2 linked regions of the Homo sapiens genome follow. The protein of the gene in region 2 interacts with the protein of the main gene of each other region in a pairwise test. Each region holds a gene or a part of one and is shown on either strand. Other genes may lie near its edges. The genes, in order: SGK2 and PMM2.

Region 1 (11,592 bases), on a different chromosome or scaffold from region 2:
ACACCAACCTGGCAGTCCAAGAGAATGTTCTCTGGTTTCAGATCCCTGCAGAAAATAAGAGAAAACAGCCTTGAGGTGTCTCAGCCATTTAGTGAGGAGAGTTGGAGACCTGGGCGGGGGGTGGTCCTGGCAGGAGAACTATTCATGGAGGTTGCCAGAGATGCAGAAGGAGAGCCCAGAAAGGCTGGGCACTTGGACCTCGGAGGAGGAGACTCCAACCCCACCCAAAACAAAGGACCAAGTCCACCAGGATTTCATCAGGATTTAGTGTCCACACAACCCCTAGCTGTTGGAGCAAGAAGGGCTTGGTCCTGGCTCTGAGCCACAGGCAGGCCTCACCTGTAAATGATGTTGAGGGAGTGCAGGTAGCCAATGGCGCTGGCCACCTCAGCAGCGTAGAACCTGGCCCGGGGCTCCAGGAACCGGCGCTCCCGCTGCAGGTGGAAGAAGAGCTGGAGGGGAGGAGGAGTGTGACAGGAGTTATTGGGTGGCTGCTGTAGGGCTAGGGTGCACCTGCTCCCCGCCCTGTGCGGCTGCGAGCTCACTCCCTCTCTGACCTGCAGCATTCTTCCTACCAAAAGAGTGCATGCTGGCCCCTGCCCCACACAGCAGTCCCGGGTGTCCAAAGAGTCAGCAGAAGAAGAGATGAGTTAGCATTGCTTAAGCACCTCCTGTGTTCCAGGTTCCAAGTCAGGCCCTTCCACATCTCTTATTTAATCCTCATGACAACCTTCAAGGTACAAGTGTCATGCTAGTTTCATGTAAGAGGAAGCTAGGAGGGGTCAGAATGGTTAGGCGACTTGCCCAAGGTCATGTAGCTTATAATTGGCAGAGCTGGCATTTGAACCTGCGTGGTTCAAAGATTATGCTTTTCCATCAATCCAGGCGATATGATGATACGGCTGTCAGACTGAGCTCAGGTTAGATCCACCCATGGGCCAATGTTTTTGGACTATTTTGCTGGCATGGAAAGCCCTTCACTTAGGGATGCAGGACAAAAACCCCCCTCTTAGCATCATTCTGAAAGGCAAGAGATCACGCAGGTTAAATCTGGGGTCACTGACTGGAGCTCCACTACATTTTGCATCTTGACCAGAGAGACAGAGTGAAGCCCAGGAGGGAGCTCTGCTTGTCCCAGCTGTGCTTCTGGGTCACCAGGTGGCCTTGAGGTCTCTGTTTACCACAGTGACCAGTCAATCCCACCCTGTGGCCTATGGGAGCACTAGAAACCTTGACCACGAGCTCCTCTTAGCATTGACCTTTCCCGGGCCTATCAAAGTGCGTCTATGGGCAACTCTGAATGAGGAAGGCAAGAAAGCATTATGGTGGGGAGTCTAACAGACCTGAATTCAAGTCCTGACTCTACCAGGTATGCGCTGGGTGGCCTTGAGCAAATGATTACCTCCCTGAACCTCAGTTTCTTTAGCTACAAAATGGGTCTATTGTAAGATGAAGTGAGATCATTCCAGAACTTGGCATGCAGTGGGCATGTGGGATGGACAGCTCCCAGCCGAGAGCCAGCCCAGGGAAGCCTCCCTGTGGGCCCACCCACCTCTCCCCCGTTGACATAGTCGAGCACGAAGTAGAGCTTCTCAGGTGTCTGGAAGGAGTAGCGCAGGCCCACGAGGAAGGGGTGCCGCACGTTCTTCAGAAGCACACTGCGCTCTGCCATGATGTGGCTCTGCTGTGGAGTCACAAAGAGAGGGGTCCATGTCACAGCCCACAACAGCCTCTTTTATCCCGGCTCAGCCCATATAAGCTTGTGGGTGGGGGTCATCCTACCCAGGACTTTCTCATGCCCCTGCTCAAACACCCACAATGGCTCCCTATTGCCCTTAGAGCCAGGCCCAAGTTCCTTCCTTAGTATTCAGGGCTCAGGGTGGTCAGCCTCATCCTAAGCTAGTTCATGTGGGCACAGCTCTAGCCCCTGTATCAGAGCTTCTTGCCCTTGGAGTGAAAAGCAAAGCATGTGTGATGCCTACATAACTGAGTTCCTAAGGGAAAGAAGCCACACACTATCCATATTCATGTATTTGCTCATGCTATTTCCTCTTCCTGGATGTCGCACCCTCTTTTCAGACCATCAGAATCCCACCATCAAGGCCAGCTGCACCGCTGCCTCCCTCAGGAAGACCTCCCATTCCACCCCCCACGGAGACCTTGTTAACATTAATCTCTCTTTTCTCTGAGTCCCCCAACCTCCTATGCAATCCTCTCTCTGGGCCTGCTCTGGCCTACTAATGGAGTCAGGTGTTAAAGGAACTCAGGTCAGCTGAGGCATCAAGAAATCCATGATGGGGCTGAGTGTGGTAGCTCATGCCTGTAATCCCAGCACTTTGGGAGGCTGAGGCCAGCGGATCTCTTGAGGCCAGGAGCCTGACCAACATGGCAAAACCCCATCTCTACTAAAAATACAAAAATTAGCCAGGAGTGGTGGCGGGTGCCTTTAGTCTCAGCTACTGGGGAGGCTGAGGCATGAGATCACTTGAACTCAGGAGGCGGAGGTTGCAGTGAGCTGAGATGGTGCCATTGCACTCCAGCCTGGGTGACAGAGCAAGACTCTGTCTCAACAACAAAAAAAGAAGTCCATGATGTGCTGTGCATGTAGCTCATGCCTCTAACCCCAGCACTTTGGGAGGCTGAGGCGGGAGGATTGCTTAAGCCCAGGAGTTTGAGGCTGCAGTGAGCTGTGATTGCACTACTGCACTCCAGCCATATGGCCTGATGGCATGAAGGGTCTTCAGAGAGAATAAAGTGGGGCTCCACATTATACAGATGGGGAGCCTGGCACTTGGAGCAGGCAGAAGACTTGTCCATCGTGGAGCCTGTGTTTCCCAGGGGAAGGCAAAGCCAGGCTGGTTTTCCTGAAAGCCCTGTGGTGAGATGGCTTGGCCTGCTTTCTTTGAGAAGGGCCAGCATCCTGCGTACCACCTCCCCTCTACCCTTTGTTGTGACCACTTCTGCACCCAGGCCCATGGACCTGTCAGAGGTGGGACCCATCTTTGAAAGCCACCCTAGGCTGCGGCTTGAGAAGCAGAAGAAGAAATGCCTGTGCCCGAGCTCTGGTACCTCTTTCTTCTTTAAGATGGACTTTTTCTGTAGTACCTTCACTGCATAGAACGCCCCATCAGACTTGCGCTTGGCCAGTAGGACCTGAGAAGAAACATGAATTTGAGGCCCTGTAGGTGACTTTGGACTTCCCAACAGCAGTACAAGGCCTCCCGCCTGCCCCTGCTTTTGTCTGCAGGTGCGAGTGCTCTCTCTTCATACATACAAGTGGCAGCAGGGGCTGGAAGAGGCTGCAGAAGGGAAGACCCAGGCTTCCCACCCTCACCAAGTCACTCACCTTCCCGTAGTTCCCTTTGCCGATGACTTTGAGGAAGTCGAAGTCCGTGGGCTGGGCACTGGGGGAAGAGGGAAAAACACGGATCAGCATTTGCAATGTCTGGAAACCTGGTGCCTGAGAACAAACCTGGGCTTCTTTTTAACTTTAGAATGGGGAAATACAGAGAGCCTTCCAGGAGCCATGCCTCCTCACCCCCGAAGAACCCCATGTTCTCCCAGCCGAAAGAGGGCTTGTAAGATTCACCCTGGCCCCAGGGGAACTCAAATTCAAGTTAAACAACAGGCAGAGGGTAGAGATAAAACCAGACATACTGCACAGAAGGCCTGCATAGAAGGCAGGGTTCTGGTACCCAAAGCCCCTCAGAAGGGCCTGAAGTGTGGGGAGTTGCTAACAATGCAGACATTTAGGTGGCATTGCAGGAAGAGGGTTCAGCATGGGCAGAGGCTGGGGAATTTGTGGGAGATAGAGCTGGGGAAAGGTCCTGGGCCCAGATGGCAGACAGTCTTGAATGCTAGACCAGAGAATCTGGATTTTATTCCCAAGGCAAGGGGAGCCAGGTATGAGGGGAGTCAAGTAGGAAAGGTGCTTGAGGGACCAGAACTCACTTTGGGTTGGCTGAAGGCCCCAGGTTGATGTTCCCATTGGCCCTGGAGGGCTAAAGAAAGAAGTGATTATGATCAGCAGATCCCTACTCCTTGGCTACCTCCCTTTCTCCTGGCCCAGGCCCTGATCCCTTCTCCAACAACTCTACTAGGCCTGCCTGCCTTTTTCTTTTCTTTTTTTTTCACCTGCCCGCCTGCCCGCCTCCCTCCCTCCCTCCCTCCTTCTACCCACCCACAAATCCACTTATCCACCATCTTACCCACTTCTCAAAACAGCCTTGGGAGGCAGCTGGCTGTTGTGCTAATTGAATAGGCGAGGAAACTGAGGCCCAGAGAGGAGTTGCCCAGGGTCTCACAGGCAACCAGGTTGGGATACGACCCAGGTGTCTCCATGACAAATCTCATGATTTTTCCAGTTCATCTTGAAGCCCTATTTCAAATCTCTACTCTATTCACCCTGCAAGTGGCTCATTTCTATGTGCTCGCAGTAACCCTCTCAGCCCCTGACATTGTCTGGGACCCACAGATTTCCTTAGCCTCGGGAAGAAGTGAGCCCCCGATGATGGGTGGGGGACCAAGAACCACTCACCTGTGGACTTGGGGTCCCAGCTGGGCTAGAGTTCATTCTGTAGCAATGATCAGGCAGCTCTGGGGGGACAGGGAGGAGCAGGCATGAGAGAGTTGGTGTTGGGGGGTCAGCTCCGCCCATCCAGGGCTTCAGGCACCACTGCCCTCTCCATCCTCCCCTACCTGTGCACCTGCCACCGCCTGAGGGTTTCCTACCCGAGGTAAGCAACCCCTGCATGGATGGAACAAGAAATGATATCCCCTGGACCCAGACTTCCTAACAAACATCTCAGAAGGGATAAAGGGGGATGGTCAGGGTGTGGCCCCTCCCAGGCTGATTCTTTTCAAGAACTGGGGACACCCAGGGCAACAAGACCCCTGTGAGCCAGGGTAGCTCCAGAAGTCCAAGATGGCCAGGGCTGGAAGGATCTTTTCAGGGCATAAAGTCTGAACCCATCCCCCATTTCACAGATGGAAGGCCTGTGGCCTAAAAAAGGACCTTCCTAGGGCCACATAGCCTTGTGAAGCACAGGCTGGGCTCTCCGGACTCCCATAGAGGAACAATGGCAACCCTGAATTACTGTGCGCAGTCCCAGCTGGGCTCTGTGCTACGATCTCCTTGCCACAAGGAATTCTGCCCAATGCCTCAGGAAAGGCAGCTGCCCTGGAAGCCTTGGGCTGGGGCCACAGAGAGACCCAAGACTGGCCAATATCTATTCGGGGCCAAACAACAGAAGGTGTGACCAGCTGATCTATGTGGCCAGGAATAGTGTCTTCCTTGCTTCCACCCTGCAGGGGAGACGGGGCCAGGGTGCCCAGGCCCTGCCACAGATTGCTTGGGGCCCCACAGTCTCATCCTTGCTTGGCAAAGGCTGAGAGCAGAGATCTCACCTGAAAGCCCAGTTGCCGCGCATCTCAAGACCTTAGTCTTGGCCCACTGTGGGGCCTGGGCTGCAGCCCAGCCTCTCTGAGTAGAGATTTCCTATCTTTACAAGGGGGGGTCCTGGAGGCACCAACCTCATGGCCTTCTTGGGAACAGAGAAAGTGAAGGGGAACTGAGAGGATCCCCCAGCCCAGGCTTCCCTGAGAGGCCCAGCCCTGCCAAGCCTTAAGAGCAAGCTGCAGAACTGCTAAGGAAGCGCAGCCTGCCCCTAGCCAATGCCAGACGTGTGTGCTCCTGCAAACGGCCCACAACACTGCCACACCCTCTCCTGGGCTGACCCCAGTGGCCCTTTGGCCAGGACCCGGCCTCCCTGGTCCCACATACCTGCGAGTCTGAGGAGAGGCCTCTAGGAGAACCAGCAGTTGGAACCGAAGACAGGCAGTGGACAAGAGAGCCTCTCTCTGTTCTCCCAACAAGGGCCTAAGTGTCTGTGCCTGGTGCCGGCCTGGCCCCAGCACAGAGCTCACAGCTCCCGGCAGCCGCGAGGGGGCTAGCTGATGTCACGCGGGATCCGGCAGAGCTTAAGATGGGACTGGAGACTTCTGTTCCCTGGGGAACACCATCTCACCCTAGCGGGGACGGTGGGAGGGGTGGGCAATAGCCCCAGGGCAGCCCTGGAGACCCTCAGGGCTTGTTAGACTGTTTGGGTCAGGGTATGTGCAGCATGGTGTGTACTGTGTGAGTGTTTTGTGCATAGAGTGCTTCCGTGTGTGTCTGTCTGTGGCTGTGTATTTCAGGTATTTGTGTCGGTTTCTATGAGTCTGCGTAGATGATTGCATGTATGTGTCAGTGTGACCACATTTGTACATTTACATCAGCATATGTCTGTGCATCTGTGACTGTGTGTGTCACTGTATCTCAGTGTGTGTGGTGTGCATATGGATGTGTTTCAGCGTGTCTCTGTGTGGTACATATCAGTGTGTATCTTTGTATGTGAATATGCTGTGTCAGTGTGTGTGTATGTGGGTGAGTGTGAGTCTGTGTGGATGTCTGAAGGTGTGTGTTAAGAGCAGTATGGGTGTCTATTAATATGTGTGTATAGGTAAGTCATTGTGTGTGTTCATAGTGGTGTATATCAGTGAATTTACTCTGGGGTGTGTGTGTGTATGTGTGTGCGCGCGTGCATGCACGCATGCGTGCGGCTAGGGGGCCTGTGTATACGAACCCTGTGTAGACCATCTGGAGCTGAAGAAAAAGTCCCCAGACATCAGCCATGGCAGCTGAGAGCCCTTCGCCTCCCAAAAACCTGCAGATGTTTCAGAGGAAGGAACCTGGAGCCTGGGTGTCTAGCTCAGTCCAGCCTGCCTTGGTCTTTAATGAGCACTTGGTCCTTTTGGCCTTTCCCTGCGGGCCCCTCAAGGGCTCTGGCCCAGTCCTCAGGGCAGGCCTGGTTGGCCCACGACTCTCCTGCTGCGTAAGAAACGGTCCCAGAGAGCACCCTGGCTCATGAAGGCCTTGCTGCCTGGGGCGGTCATTAGGTTCTCACAGGGTCCCTTCCTCTCCCCAGGATCCCGAGGGGTAGGCAGATGTTCTCAAGAATAAAGGAGTTGATGGGCCCACAGCCCCTGCCCTTCTCAAACTTTCTGTGTGGCTACAGTATACTACAGGGGAGGGACACATGGGGCTAGGGCCCAGAAAGTTGGTCAGGGAGGGAACTGAGCCCAGGGGCCTCAGGGGTTCTCTGTGGGTTCTGAAATGCGGAGGATCTGGAAGTGTTGACCAGAGAAAACCTGAGTGCACAGTATCAAAGCCTTCCATCTTGAACAAAATAGAAATGTGGAACCAATTCATGATCAGCAGGATGTCATGTTGACAAAACACATACCCAGAACAAGGACATTTATTTTCAAAAACAAGATCCTGATGTGGCCTTCATTCAGCAGCACTATTTATAACAGCAAAATAATTGTGCTAATAGTAACCTAAGTGTCCCACCACAGAGCACTTCAGAACACTTGCCAGCTGCAAGAGCTCCCTCTCTTGACCATATACCGTGTCCAGATATGGTCCCATTTCTTTGTACCCCTTTTCAGCTAAACTCTTTGAAAGAGTTGTCTGGACTCCTTGTCTCCAGTCCTCTTCCTGTTCTCTTTTGAGCCCGTTCCAAATGGGCTCTCATCCCAACACTTCAATGAAACCGTGGACCAGTGACCTCTATGTGCCAAAGCCAGTGATGAGTTCCTCATCCTCATCTTATTCAACTTCTCTGAAGAATTTGGTGTGCTCATGTTCCCCATTTGGCTTTAGGAACTCTTGGTTTTCCTTCTAGCTCACTGACTGCTCTTCCTCCATCTCTTGTGCTGGATTTTCCTCCTCTTTTTATCCTTAAACACAGGCCTATCCCAGGGCTTAGTCTTTGGGCTTCTGTCTACACGTACTTGTTCTTTAGTTGATCACTACCATTTTAGTGGTTTAACCAACTATACTTGTCAGTTCCCAAATCTTTTTTTTTCTTTCTTTCTTTTTTTTTTTTTTGAGACAGAGTCTTGCTCTGTCACCCAGGCTGGAGTGCAGTGGTGCTATCTCAACTCATTGCAACCTCTGCCTCCCAGGTTCAAGTGATACTCCCACCTCAGCCTCCTGAGTACCCGGGACTACAGGTGCCCGCCACCATACCCGGCTAATTTTTGTATTTTTTTAAGTAGAGATGGGGTTTCGCCATGTTGGCCAGGCTGGTCTCGAACTCCTGACCTCAAGTGATCTGCCTGCCTCGGCCTCCCAAAGTGTTGGGATTACAGGCGTGAGCCACTGCGCCCAGCCTAGTTCTGATTCTCTCCTGAACTCTGGATTTAAATATTTAACTGCTTCCTTGACAATTCACTAGTCAGATGTCTAGAGGCATCTCAATCTTTATTTATTTATTTATTTTTTAAGAAAGAGTCTCACTCTGTTGCCTAGGCTGGAGTGCAATGGCACAATCTTGGCTAACTGCAAGCTCCGCTTTCTGGTTCAAGCGATTCTCCTGCCTCAGCCTCCCGAGTAGCTGGGATTACAGGCACCCGCCACTGCGCCTGGCTAATTTTTGTATTTTTAGTAGAGACTGGGTTTCACCATGTTGGCCAGGCTGGTCTCGAACTCCTGACCTCATGTGATCCACCCACCCCTGCCTCCCAAAGTGCTGGGATTACAGGTGTGAGCCACCGTGCCCAGCCAAAGCATCTCAATCTTTTTTTTTTTTTTTTTTTTTTTTTTTGAGACATGGTTTAGCTCTGCAGCCCAGGTTAGAGTGTAGTGGAGTGATCTAGGCTCTCTGCAATCTTTACCTCCCTGGCTCAAGCTATTCTCCCACCTCAGCCTCCTGAGTAGCTGGGACTATAGACACACACCACCAGGCTTGGCTAATTTTTTTTTGTACTTTTTGTAGAGACAGGGTTTCACTATGTTGCCCAGGCTGGTCTTGAGCTCATGAGCTTAAGCAATCCTCCTGCCTCGGCCTCCCAAATTGCTGGGATTACAGGCGTGACCCACTGCGCCTGGCTGGTATCTCGAAGTTAACATGTCCAAAACAAAGGTCTTGACTCATATTCCTTCCACTCTGCCCCAGTCTGCTCCTCCCTCAGTCTTCAGCCTCAATAATGGCACTACCGCCTACTCAAAAGTTCAAGCCAGCAACTTTGAGTTCATTCTAGAAAGCTTGCACCCTCACTCCGCCTCCACTCCATCATGAAATTCCATTCAAAATATATCCAGAAACCATTGCTGCTCACCATCATTGCTGCAACCGCCCTGCCTGAGCCCCCATTGTCACTTGAATGGATTATTGCAATGGCTTCTCCACTGACCCCTGCTTCTCCATTTACCCACTACAATCTTTCTCTATGAAAAGCCACGGTGAGTCTTAAAATGTAAATCAGATCATGTGCCTTAGTTGCTCAAAAACTCCAGTGGTTTCTCAACACACCTAGAATTAAAATCCAAAGCCTCAGCTGGGCGCGGTGGCTCACACCTGTAATCCCAGTGCTTTGGGAGGCCGAGGCGGGTGGATCATGAGGTCAGAGATCGAAACCATCCTGGCCAACATGGTGAAACCCCGTCTCTACTAAAAATACAAAAATTAGCTGGGCGTGGTGATATGTGCCTGTAGTCCCAGCTACTCAGGAGGCTGAGGCAGGAGAATAGCTTGAACCCAGGAGGCAGAGGTTGCAGTGAGCTGAGATCACGCCACTGCACTCCAGCCTGGTGACAGAGCAAGACTCTGTCTCAAAAAAAAAAAAAAAAAAAAAATCCAAAGCCTCTACCATGGTTTATGAGATCCATATGACCTAGCTTGCTGTCTCCATCTCCTCCTTGGCTTCCACTCCCCTCCTTCCTGACTGCCCTCAGCCTCTCTCCTTTCTCTTGCTGTCCCTCAGACACACTAAGTGCTCTCTGGCCTCCAGCCCCTTGCACTTAGTTTTCCCTCTGCCTACAACACTCTTCCCCCAGGCACCTGCATGGCTGTTTTCCACTAACGTCATAGAGGCTTCTGCTTAAAGTCACCTCTTGGAGAGGCTTGTACTGATTACGGGTGACAAGTCATCTTGGTTTGTCTGGGACTGATGGGTTTCAGTGCTAAAACCGCTATAGTCCTGGGCCAACCAGGATGGTTAGTCACTCTGATACCAGTCCTGCTCATTCCCTATACATTTTGTCTACTTTATATTTTACTTTGTAGCACTGATGCCTTATCACGTATTTATTAGTTTTTATTTTCTATCTCCAACTAGAACATCAGCTCCAGGAGGGCAAATACTTCCTGTTCAACTATTGAATCCTCAGCACTGAGCACAGGGCCTGGAATATAGTAGATGCCCAGTACAATTTGACTAATGAATCAATAAATGAATTGATAAATGTTGGTACATATATAAAGTGGAAAATTACACAACCAAAAACTATATAAAACCTATATAAACCAAAACAGGAACATACATGTGATACAATATCAAGCAAAAAACCAAGTTTCAAAATAGTAGGTGTTGTAGGGGTACCAATTTTGTAAAAGAAAAACAAAAGACATGTCTGCACGTACACATTTGTGAGCACAGCTGCCAAAAAAAGACTGCAGGGTCATGACCCAAGGTCACAGCGGGTTCTTAGGTTAGGTTATTTTAACTTTTTTTTTTTTTTTTTGAGATGGAGTCTCGCTCTGTCGCCCAGGCTGGAGTGCAGTGGCGCAATCTCTGCTCACTGCAACCTCCGCCTCCTGGGTTCAAGCAATTCTCCTGTCTCAGCCTCCCAAATAGCTGGGATTACGGGCATGTGTCACGACGCTCGGCTAATTTTTGTATTTTTAGTCGAGACGAGGTTCCACCATGTTGGCTAGGCTGGTCTCAAACTCCTGACCTCAGGTGATCCGCCTGCCTCGGCCTCCCAAAGTGTTAGGATTACGGGTGTGAGCCACTGTACCCGGCCGGTTATTTTAACTTTTATCTTTGTACTATTGTGTAAAGCTTCTCAAGATATTGCTGTTGAGTTAATATTCAAGTACTGAGTTCCTGGTGGGAACCTGGCATGCCCATGGCCCATCACACCCTCCCCCATCACCTTGACTGTGACCCCCATGCCTAAGCAGCCCTCAGTTCCTAAGGCTTTCTTCTCTCTCGCACCACGGTGTTCTAATTTTCTGGCCAGAAGCTGGACATCAATATATTCTCCTAACTCTTCAGACTCCGCAAACTCCCACTCAAGCCCCTCCATGAGTCCTCAAGCCTGTCCCTTTCCTAACTTGCCACAGCCCAGACTTGCCTCCCTCTGTCCCACTGTTACATGGACCTGCTTACAGCTCCCTGGCCCTGCCAAATGGGGTGTGGGGGTGGGACAGTGTCACACAGTTCTCTCTCCTTGGAACATTCCCCAACAAACCTGGTCTTTCCAGCTCACCTTTTCACCTGTTCTCATTGCCTTTCCTGGAAGCCAGATGACCCTCCGATCCCATGCACCCTCTCCTGCTGCTGTCCCTGTCTTCACTGTAACTTGTTCATTTACACGCCTGCCCAGTTCAAGTGCCAACTTGATCTTATTTTGTTCCCACAACCCCACGGGTTAGGAACTATCATCGTCCCTGTTTCAAGGAGGAGAAAACTGAGGCAAGGACAGGGAAGTGACATGATCAAGACAGTTAATAAATGACATAACCAGGATTTGAACCCAGG
Region 2 (11,579 bases):
TACTAAAAATACAAAAATTAGCTGCACGTGGTGGTGCATACCAGTAATCCCAGTTACTTGGGAGGCTGAGGCAGGAAAATCACTTGAACCTGGAGGCAGAGGTTGCAGCGAGCCAAGATTGTGCCACTGCACCCCAGCCTGGATAACAGAGTGAGACTCTGTCTCAAAAACAAAAAAAAAGGCCGGGCATGGTGACTCATGCCCATGCCTGTAATCCCAGTACTTTGAGAGGCCAAGGCAGGTGGATCACCTGAGGTCAGGAGTTCAAGGCCAGCCTGGCCAACATGGTGAAACCCCGTCTCTACTAAAAAGACAAAAATTACCTGGGCATGGTGGCAGGGGCCTGTAATCTCAGCTACTCGGGAGGCTGAGGCAGTAGAATTGCTTGAACCGGGGAGGCGGAGGTTGCAGCGAGCTGAGATCGTGCCATTGCACTCCAGGCTGGGCAACAACAGTGACTTGTCTCAAAAACAATAGCAACAACAACAACAAAAAACAAAACTGAAGGTGGGACTGGGAAGACGTTTGGGAAAGCAGCCTCGGGTGAAGGAGGTGGAATGAGTTCTACGTCTTGACTTTGGGGTGCCGTGGCAGGCAGCGTGGAGGTTGCCTGTCGTTCAGGTTGGAGGAGCCTGCCTGGGCTGAGGTGGCCAGCTGGGGCCCAGAGCCAGAACACTTGGGAGGGGTGGAGAGGAAGCAGCAGCCCTTGGAGAGGAAGTGATTCAAAACCACGTATGCCTGGATGTGTCCGGACTACGGCAACATCTGCCCAACTGCCTTCTCCTGGCCCCTGTGGGCACTCCCCTTCCAGTAGCTGGAGAGACCTTCCCGGACAGATCATGAGCATGCCCCACACCTCTCCCTCGGGATCAGGTTCAAGCTCAACTTCCTGGCTAGCCTCTCCCTCCAGGGAGCCAGAGGCCTGCCCTGCACTCACCCACTGCTCAGGTTCAACCCAGGCCTTTTCTCTGAGGCTTAAGCCCTGGGTGACCTTGAGTTCAGGGTCAGCTTCTGCAGTGCTGGGGATGGTGACTTTCAACAGTGCTAAGCTGGCCTGGATGCAACCTCTGTGCTTTGCTGTGGCTCAAAATTTACCTACTGTGTTTAAATTTCTTGTGACGGTGTCTTTATCCTGCAACCCCCTAAAGCAGAGAGAGGGACTGACTGTCCCTGCCTTATAGGGTTCTGGGTTGGGAAGGGGTATTACTTGAGTTAGTAATGGCTCACACTCACTGTTCAAAGTGCTTTAAATTCCATACACGGTAAGGACTATCCCATTTGACAGAGGAGGAAACTGAGGCGAAGATGAACTCACCTTAAGTCACGCAGCAGCTTGTAGCAGCAGAACTAGGCTTGGGGTCTTGGCAGCTGTGCTCTTACCTGCCATGTGCAGAACCTGCTGCTCTGGGGTCACGCAGAAGGCACCAGGACATGTTGTGCATGCGTCGTTTAGCTGTTATCACTTTACATCCCACCACAGTGCGGGGCAAGCCGATGCCCTTGGAGTAAGCCCCAGGAAGCTGGCCTGGGATGCAATGTGATGACAAAGAAGGTGGAAGGGGAGTGTCAATTCTGACTGCAGAAGGGAGGCAGCAGACAGTGCAGGAGGGGCTCGAGGGGCCTGGGGAGGGTCTCAAGCAGCCACTGTGGGAACTGGGGCAGGGACGGCCCAAACCTCCGCGCATCAGCACCCAGCCTGGCAGACTCGGGGTACTCACCTGAGGGCAGCCCTGTGCAGGCGGTGACACAGCAGCAACCCTCCATCTCCGGTTAAAACAAGTTTGAGTAAGACTCGGTTGTCTCGCTTTGACGCAATACGTTAAGGAAACTTGTAAAGAATGGCAGATCCTGACCCAGTGGGCAGAAAAGCAGCGGGGGAGGAGTCTGTGCATCAGGAACAGCAACATGCAACTCCGCAGAGGGAGGGGCCCCCGATGTGACAGAAATCCAGAGTAAAGAAAGAGTGGCTCTCAGACCTGGAAGGGCTGGGGTTCCATTCCAGAATCTGGGAACATAGGAGGAAAAAGAAATCGGAATGAGAAACAGGAAACAATAAAATCACTTTAATGTGCTACTCTTCACTTTGGAAGGTCATTACAGTATCATTCGACAAGGAAAGATGCCGCTGGATGGCTGTGTCCTGTGAGTCACTGGGATGAGCTGGCTGCTTTCACCCCACCGGATCCGGGGCTCAGACAGTTACAAGCCCGAGTGGCTGGGAGGTTTGGAGGGAACCAGGTTTAGCTGTGATGAAAGCACCTGGCTGTGGGCTGGGAGGCAGGAGTGCAGGGCAGCCTGGGCTCCCCTGGCCCCAGACTCAGGTCGGCAAGTGCCCAGTGGAGGCCACACAACCCCAGCACCAAGCAATGGAGGGTGTATGGCTCAGTGTTTCCACATCCTGAAAAGTGACACATGAACCGTTTCCTAGGAAAGTTCTCTTCCACCGTGTTCTAGCTGAGACCCGGGATCCTTCCAGTTTCACGAAGAACGTGCAGAAGATGAAAAGAGTGAGGGACGCGGACCTAGCTGTAGCTGCACTCAGCCGCCTCCGTGGTAAAGTCTGGGTGAAGGCCTGGGTGAGTGCAGATAGGAGAGCAGCTCCTCTTACTGTTCTCTGGCTGGGCTCTCGCTCCATCCCTGAGAAACTAGAGGCGAACGCCTCCAGGAAGCCAGCCAGGGGCAACCAGAAAGTCCTTTTGGTGAAGTCTGACATCCCGCGTTGGTTTCTCTGGACCTGGGTAAGAACCGGCCCCAGGGCAAGGACTGTTTTGCCAGCACCAACTCTCCAGCCCAGCTGTTGGTTCCCACTACCTCCGGTCTCGGAGACAGAGAAGCAGCCAGGCTATTCTGAGTGTAGTGAACACAGAGCCGGTCCGAATCCGGCCCAGCCGAGGTGCAAACTCCCTAGGGTCTGCTCCCACTTGGCCAGCCATCTGTCCAGCAGGCCTCAGCCCCAAACACGGGAAAACGCAGAGTGCGTCTAGTCACTGGGTATCACACTGCCCCACTCACAGCCCCCATCAAGGTGACATGCAGGCGGGAGCTTCGTTCCAGGAGGTGTTTGTAAACTTCGTCCTGGGCTGGGTCACTGCAGATGGCCTGTCCTGGTTTCTCATTACCAAACCCCCATGTTTGGTATTGATGCAGGGGCCCATTAAAAAAACCGCTTATGTTTCCACAGACCCACCAAGAGGGAGGGTCCAGGCACAGTTTTTCTTTCTGTATCATCCTAGAATGATGGGGAAATTTCCGCCAAAACTACATGATTGCACGTATCAGGGTGGGTATTAGACTAGGGGGCTGGGGGTGGGTGGGGAAGACCTTTTGTGCGAGGCATTCCTCTGGGCCATTCTTGACAAGAGTTTTCTCCTTCCTTCTGGAAGTTTCTGGCACTGGAGGTGGAAGTCCAGACTGCACATGCCTGGCATAGCATGCAGAGCCTGCCTAGGCTGCGGGTGGGTGAGCACGTGTGGGAGGACCCTCGGCTCTGGCCACCGAATGCCCTATGCTGGCTTGTCAGCCGGGACCCCGCCCCTCCCGCTCCCACGTTAGGAGAACAGCAGTTCACAGATCCTGCGCGTGTCCTCAGGCGCTGTCACGGAGTAGCCCATGGTTCTGGGGTCTGTGAAGATCTCATGGTCATTGCCACCCTGGAAAGACACGAAGTACAGATGAAGGCTCCCCCTCGTCTGTCCCGGGCCATTGCTGATGTGACCCTGGAGTCCAAAAGTACCCAAAAAACAAGATTTAACTGGGCAGGGAGAGTTTCTTCAGCTACCTTCCTCTTAGTTTCCAGGAGAGGAACGTGAGTACAATTGTTATTAAGAAGAGATTTATAACCTTCTCTTGAACTGCAATTTGGCTTGGAACACGTAATTATGCCTATGAGAGCCATCACGATGTTCTTGCGAAGATCTGTCTAAGGCTTATTTTTCTACACAGAAGGCATCAGCGAGTGACAGTATTCTCACAGCCATCAGTTTTTTTTTTTTTTTTAGCTGTACCTACGCTTTTCTAACAAGTCACAAGGGAGCGTCAGGAGGGCAGAGGGCCGGGAGCAGGGCTGCCAGGGATATTCCTGTGATGAGGGACGTGGCGACATCAGCGGTGATGGCAGCCACTGGCCATGTGTCACTCTGCACACTTGAAACGTGGCCAATGCAATGGAGGAACTCAGTTAATTTGATTTTAATTTAAACAGCCCCACGTGGGCCGGGCATGGTGGCTCATGCCTGTAATCCCAGCACTTTGGGAGGCTGAGAAGGGTGGATCACTTGAGGTCAGGAATTTGAGACCAACCTGGCTAACACAGCAAAACTCCATTTCTACTTAAAATACAAAAATTAGCTGGGCATGGTGGCGCACGTCTGAAATCCCAGCTGCTCGGGAGGCTGAGGCAGGAGAATTGCTTGAACTCGGGAGGTGGAAGTTGCAGTAAGCCGAGATCGCACCACTGCACTCCAGCCTGGGCGACAAAGGGAGACTCTATCTTAAATAAATAAATAAATGGCCCCACATGACTGGGGTCTGAGCTGCTGGCTAAAAGCAGGGTCTCTGGAACAGGTGGCCTGGGTCAGATGCTGGTTCTACCACTGAGCAGCAGTGTGGCTGCGCCAACTCCCCATCTCCAAAATGGGGTCATGATGGAAGCTTGCTCACAGCTCTGTGGCCAGAAGTTCAGGAGATGATGGTTGGGGTCACACCTTGGTAAGATGACGAAACCGAGGCCTCAGAAAGTCTGCAAGGGCCCATGTCTAGGAGGACCTGGGCATGTTCTGCTGGGGTCCTGTGCCTGAGTTGAGTGCTCCCATCTGTGTCCCCATCACCCCCACCAATCCCACTGGGCTCACGTTAATGAATCAGGTTATCTGCCGCTCCCGCAACCCCGAGCCCTGCAGGAAAGCCCCCGTTTTTCTCATGGAATTCCTTTATTTCCCTCATAAAATTGGATAATCACTCTAACTCAAAACCTTAAAATAATCTACGATTGCTTTACAATACAATGAACACAACCGTAGAAAAAAGGGATTTTTCTCATAAAGCACCGAGCATGAAGCCAACGTGGAAACCATGATTTTGTACCAAAAATCTGACATCCTTTAAAAGAATTAATTGCCTCTGGAAATGAGTGTTTTCATTTTTGCAAGAACCTATCCCCAGGCAGATGGCCTCCTCAGGTGGAGGTGAATTTCAGGCTTCAGGAGGGAACGTCGCTGGGCCCAGGGAGTGCTGGGTGGAGTCAGGTTAGGAGGCCATGAACTTGGCATCTCTTCCAGTCCAGCCACTTGGGAACCTGTCAGGGCCTTGTACTGGCCTTACACAGTTTTGTACCAGGCCTGGGGGCCTTCAGACAGACCTGAATTGCATGGCCACCATCTGCTACCTACACATGTGAAATCAGTTCTGGTAATTCTGATTTTGCCTTTTTTTTCCTTCGGACATAGGGTCTTGCTATGTTGCCCAGGCTGGGCTCGAGCGAACCTCCTGCCTCAGCCTCTCGAGTAGCTGAGACAAAGACTGTGTCCAACAGTGCCAAGCTAGTTCCAGTAATTCTTCTAATTAAAAAAAAAAAAAAAAAGATTTCTTTCAGGAATGGCACAGTGGGTAAAAGTCACAGAGAACCTAACAAAGGCACAACCTAGCTGGGTGTGGTGGTGCGCACCTGTAATCCCAGCTGCTTGGCAGGAGAATCACTTGAACCTGGGAGGCGGAGATTGCAGTGAGCCAAGAACAGACCACTGTACTTCAGCCTGGGCAACAGAGCGAGACTCAAAAGAAAAAAAAACAAACAAAAAACCAAAGGCACAACCAACTCTCACATGCCTCAAAAGAGCCAAACACCCTCCCCGCCTCAGTGACTGAGGAGGGGAGTCAGTATTCACACATTAACACAACACACCTTTCTAGAACACCTACTGTCAGGCCTCTGAGCCCAAGCCAAGCCATCGCATCCCCTATGACTTACACGTGTACATCCAGATGGCCTGAAGTAACTAAAGATCCACAAAAGAAGTAAAAATAGCCTTAACTGATGACATTCCACCATTGTGATTTGTTTCTGCCCCACCCGAACTGATCAATGTACTTTGTAATCTCCCCCACCCTTAAGAAGGTTCTTTGAAATTCTCCCCACTCTTGAGGATGTACTTTGTGAGATCCACCCCTGCCCGCAAAACATTGCTCTTAACTTCACCGCCTATCCCAAAACCCATAAGAACTAATGATAATCCACCACCCTTTGCCGACTCTCTTTTCGGACTCAGCCCGCCTGCACCCAGGTGAAATAAACAGCCATGTTGCTCACACAAAGCCTGTTTGGTGGTCTCTTCACATGGACGCGCATGAAATTTGGTGCCGTGACTCAGATCGGGAGACCTCCCTTGGGAGATCAATCCCCTATCCTCCTGCTCTTTGCTCCATGAGAAAGATCCACCTACGACCTCAGGTCCTCAGACCCACCAGCCCAAGAAACATCTCACCAATTTCAAATCCAATAAGCAGCCTCTTTTTACTCTCTTCTCCAACCTCCCTATCCCTCACCGTCTTTCTCCTTTCAATCTAGGCGCCACACTTCAATCTCTCCCTTCTCTTAATTTCAATTCCTTTCATTTTCTGGTAGAGACAAAGGAGACGTTTTATCTGTGGACCCAAAAAACCGGCGCCGGTCACGGACTGGGAAGGCAGCCTTCCCTTGGTGTTTAATCATTGCAAGGACGCCTCTGATCATTCACCCACGTTTCAGAGGTGTCAGACCACGCAGGGACACCTGCCTTGGTCCATAACCCTTAGCGGCAAGTCCCGCTTTTCTGAGGAAGGGGCAAGGACCCCAACCCCTTCTTTCCGTGTCTCTACCCCTTCTCTGATTTTCTGGGGCAGGGGCAAGAACCCCCCAACCCCTTCTCCTTCACCCTTAGCGGCAAGTCCCGCTTTTCTGGGGGAGAGGCAAGTACCCCAAACTCGTATCTCTGTGCCCCAATCCCTTATTTCCATGCCCCAACCCCTTTCCCGCTTTTCTGGAGGGTAAGAACCCCCAAACCCCTTCCCTCCATGTCTCTACGCTCTCTTTTCTCTGGGCTTGCCTCCTTCACTATGGGCAACCTTCCTACATTCCTCCTTCTTCTCCCTTAGCCTGTGTTCTCAAGAACTTAAAACCTCTTCAACTCATACCTGACCTAAAACCTAAATAAATGCCTTATTTTCTTCTGCAATGCCGCTTGACCCCAATACAAACTCGACAGTAGTTCCAAATAGCCAGAAAACGGCACTTTCAATTTTTCCATCCTGCAAGATCTAAATAATTCTTGTCGTAAAATGGGCAAACAGTCTGAGGTGCCTGATGTCCAGGCATTCTTTTACACATCAGTCCCTTCCTAGTCTCTGTGCCCAGTGCAACTCGTCCCAAATCTTCCTTCTTTCCCTCCCGCCTGTCCCCTCAGTCCCAACCCCAAGCGTTGCTGAGTCTTTCTAATCTTCCTTTTCTACAGACCCATCTGACCTCTCCCCTCCTCGCCAGGCCGAGCTAGGTTCCAATTCTTCCTCAGCCCCTAGACCCTAAAAGGTCAAAAGGCCGTCTTATTCTCAATATACATTTTATTACCCAATCTGCTCCCGACATTAAATAAAACTCCAAAAATTAGAATCTGGCCCTCAAACTCCACAACAGGACTTAATTAACCTCACCTTCAAGGTGTACAATAATAGAAAAAAGTTGCAATTCCTTGCCTCCACTGTGAGACAAACCCCAGCCACATCTCCAGCACACAAGAACTTCCAAATGCCTGAACCGCAGCGGCCAGGCGTTCCTCCAGAACCTCCTCCCCCAGGAGCTTGCTACACGTGCCAGAAATCTGACTACCAGGGCCAAGGAATGCCTGCAGCCCAGGATTCCTCCTAAGCCGTGTCCCATCTGTGCGGGACCCCACTGGAAATCGGACTGTTCAACTCACCTGGCAGCCACTCCCAGAGCCCCTAGAACTCTGGCCCAAGGCTCTCTGACTGACTCCTTGGCTTAGCGGCTGAAGATTGACGCTGCCCAATCGCCTTGGAAGCCCCCAGACCATCACGGACGCCAAGCTTTGGGTAACTCTCACAGTGGAGGGTAAGTCCACCCACTGTTTAATCGAAACGGGGACTACCCACTCCATGTTGCCTTCTTTTCAAGGGCCTGTTTCCCTTGCCTCCATAACTGTTGTGGGTATGGACGGCCAGGCTTCTAAACCTCTTAAAACTCCCCAACTCTGGTGCCAACTTAGACATTACTCTTTGAAGCACTCATTTTTAGTTATCCCCACCTGCCCAGTTCCCTTATTAGGCCGAGATATTTTAAGCAAATTATCTGCTTCCCTGACTATTCCTGGACTACAGCCGCATCTCATTGCCGCCCTTCTCCCCAACCCAAAGCCTCCTTTGCGTCTTCCTCTCATATCCCCCCACCTTAACCCACAAATATGGGACATTTCTACTCCTTCCCTGACAACTGATCACATGCCCATTACCATCCCATTAAAACCTAATCACCCTTACCCCGCTCAACGCCAATATCCCATCCCACAGCACGCTTTAAAAGGATTAAAGCCTGTTATCACTGGCCTGCTACAGCATAGGCTTCTAAAACCTATAAACTCTTCTTATAATCCCCCCATTTTACCTGTCCAGAAACCGGACAAGTCTTACAGATTAGTTCAGGATCTGCGCCTTATCAACCAAATTGTTTTGCCTATCCACCCTGTGGTGCCCAACCCATACACTCTTTCATCCTCAATACCTTCCTCCACAACTCACTATTCCACACTTGATCTTAAAGATGCTTCTTTCAGCGTTCCCCTGCACCCCTTGTCCCAGCCTCTCTTTGCTTTCACCTGGACTGACCCTGACACCCATCAGTCCCAGCAGCTTACCTGGGCTGTGCTGCCACAAGGTTTCAGGGACAGCCCTCATTACTTCAGCCAAGCTCTTTCTCATGATCTACTTTCTTTCCACCCCTCCGCTTCTCACCTTATTTAATATATTGATGACCTTCTTCTTTGTAGCCCCTCCTTTGAATCTTCTCAACAAGACACACTTCTGCTCCTTCAGCATTTACTCTCCAAAGGATATCAGGTATCCCCCTCCAAAGCTCAAATTTCATCCTCATCTGTTACCTATCTCGGCATAATTCTCATAAAAACACACGTGCTCTGCCTGTTGATCTTGTCTGATTAATCTCCCAAACCTCAATCCCTTCCAAAACAACAACTCCCTTCCTTCCTAGGCATGGTTAGTGCGGTCAGAATTCTTACACAACAGCCAGGACCACACCCTGTAGCCTTTCTGTCCAAACAACTTGACCTTACTGTTTTAGCCTAGCCCTCATGTCTGCGTGCAGCGGCTGCCGCTGCTTTAATACTTTTAGAGGCCGTAAAAATCACAAACTATGCTCAACTCACTCTCTACATTTCTCATAACTTCCAAAATCCATTTTCTTCCTCATACCTGATGCATATACTTTCTGCTCCCCGGCTCCTTCAGCTGTACTCACTCTTTGTTAAGTCCCACAATTACCATTGTTCCTGGCCCGGACCTCAATCTGGCCTCCCACATTATTCCTGATACCACACCTGACCCCCATGACTGTGTTTCTCTGATCCACCTGACATTCACCCCATTTCCCCATATTTCCTTCTTTCCTGTTCCTCACCCTGATCACGCTTGATTTATTGATGGCGGTTCCACCAGGCCTAATCGCCACATAGCAGCAAAGGCAGGCTATGCTATAGTACAAGCCACTAGCCCGCCTCTTAGAACCTCTCATTTCCTTTCCATCGTGGAAATCTATCCTCAAGGAAATAACTTCTCAGTGTTCCATCTGCTATTCTACTACTCCTCAGGGATTATTCAGGCCCCTTCCCTTCCCTACACATCAAGCTTGAAGATTTGCCCCCACCCAGGACTGGCAAATTAGCTTCACTCAACATGCCCCGAGTCAGATAACTAAAATACCTCTTAGTCTAAGTAGACACTTTCACTAGATAAGTAGAGGCCTTTCCTACAGGGTCTGAGAAGGCCACCGCAGTCATTTCTTCCCTTCTGTCAGACATAATTCCTCAGTTTAGCCTTCCCACCTCTATACAGTCTGATAACGGACCAGCCTTTACTAGTCAAATCACCCAAGCAGTTTCTCAGGCTCTTAGTATTCAGTGGAACCTTCATATCCCTTACAGTCCTCAATCTTCAGGAAAGGTAGAACGGACTAATGGTCTTTTAAAGGTACACATCACCAAGCTCAGCCTCCAACTTAAAAAGGATTGGACAGTACTTTTACTTCTTGCTCTTCTCAGAATTAGAGCCTGTTCTCGAGATGCTACAGGGTAGGTACAGTCCATTTGAACTTTTATATGGACGCACTTTCTTGCTTGGCCCCAACCTCATCCCAGACACCAGCCCTCTAGGCGACTGTCTTCCAGTCCTCCAGCAGGCTAGACAGGAAATTCGCCAGGCTGCTAAGCTTCTCTTGCCTACTCCAGATCCCCAGCCATATGAAGACACCCTAGCTGGACGATCAGTTCTTGTTAATCTGACTCCTCAAACTCTACAACCTCGATGGACCGGACCCTACTTAGTCATCTATAGTACCCCGACTGCTGTCCGCCTGCAGGATCCTCCCCACTAGGCTCACCGTTCCAGAATAAAGCTGTGTCCATCGGACAGCCAGCCTAATCCCTCCTCTTCCTCCTGGAAGTTGCAAGTACTCTCCCCTACTTCCCTTAAACTCAGTCGTATTTCGAAGAACAGTCATAACCCTTATGAGCCTAATACATCCCTTCATTCTATTAGGTTTTTCGTCCTTACCCTACTTTTTGCAACAGGGCTTTACGAAGTCACCCCCACCACTTAGGCCGAGCCCCAAAAAACTAGTCATCCCTACTATCTTCTGTCTGGTCATACTCCTATTCTCCATTCTCAACTACTTATAAATGCCCTACTCTTGTTTACACGGCCGGTTTACACTGTTTCTTCAAGCCATCACAGCTGATATCTCTTGGTGCTATCCCCAAACTGCCACTCTTAACTCCCTCTTAGAGTGGATAGATGATCTTTGCTGGCAAGGCACCCTCCAATATTTCCACCCTGATGAAGTTCTATTCTTTACTTTTATACTCACTCTTATTCTCATTCCCATTCTTATGCCACCCTCTACCTCTCCCCAGCTATCTCCACCACACTATCAACCTTACCCATTCTCTCCTAGCCGCTTCTAATCCCTCCTTAGTGAACAACTGCTGGCTTTGCATTTCCCTTTCTTCCAGTGCCTACACAGCTGTCCCCACCTTACAGACAGACTGGGCAACATCTCCCATCTCCCTACACCTCCGAACTTCCTGTAACAGCCCTCACCTTTACCCTCCTGAAGAACTCATTTACTTTCTAGACAGGTCCAGCAAGACTTCCCCAGACATTTCACATCAGCAAGCTGCCGCCCTCCTTCACACTTATTTAAAAAACCTTTCTCCTTTCTCCTTTCTCCCCCCATATTCGGACCTCTCACAACACAAACTACTATGCCTGTGGCCGCTCCTATATGTATCTCTCGGCAAAGACCC

The links.
Region 1: the proteins of PMM2 (region 2) and SGK2 interact in binary tests that used the Homo sapiens proteins (3 or more experiments, as listed by UniProt).

Annotation. Positions count from the first base shown.
Region 1 is NC_000020.11:43,559,477-43,571,068, reverse strand, and holds part of SGK2 (serine/threonine-protein kinase Sgk2), read right to left. Parts: intron 5,846-11,592; exon of another isoform or gene 5,783-5,845; intron 5,272-5,782; exon of another isoform or gene 4,597-5,271; 5' UTR 4,574-4,596; coding exon 4,538-4,573; intron 4,002-4,537; coding exon 3,952-4,001; intron 3,405-3,951; coding exon 3,347-3,404; intron 3,154-3,346; coding exon 3,070-3,153; intron 1,685-3,069; coding exon 1,553-1,684; intron 453-1,552; coding exon 340-452; intron 46-339; coding exon 9-45; intron 1-8. UniProt on the Homo sapiens protein: Serine/threonine-protein kinase which is involved in the regulation of a wide variety of ion channels, membrane transporters, cell growth, survival and proliferation.
Region 2 is NC_000016.10:8,839,795-8,851,373, reverse strand, and holds the end of PMM2 (phosphomannomutase 2), read right to left. Parts: intron 3,651-11,579; coding exon 3,549-3,650; 3' UTR 2,049-3,548; downstream 1-2,048. UniProt on the Homo sapiens protein: Involved in the synthesis of the GDP-mannose and dolichol-phosphate-mannose required for a number of critical mannosyl transfer reactions.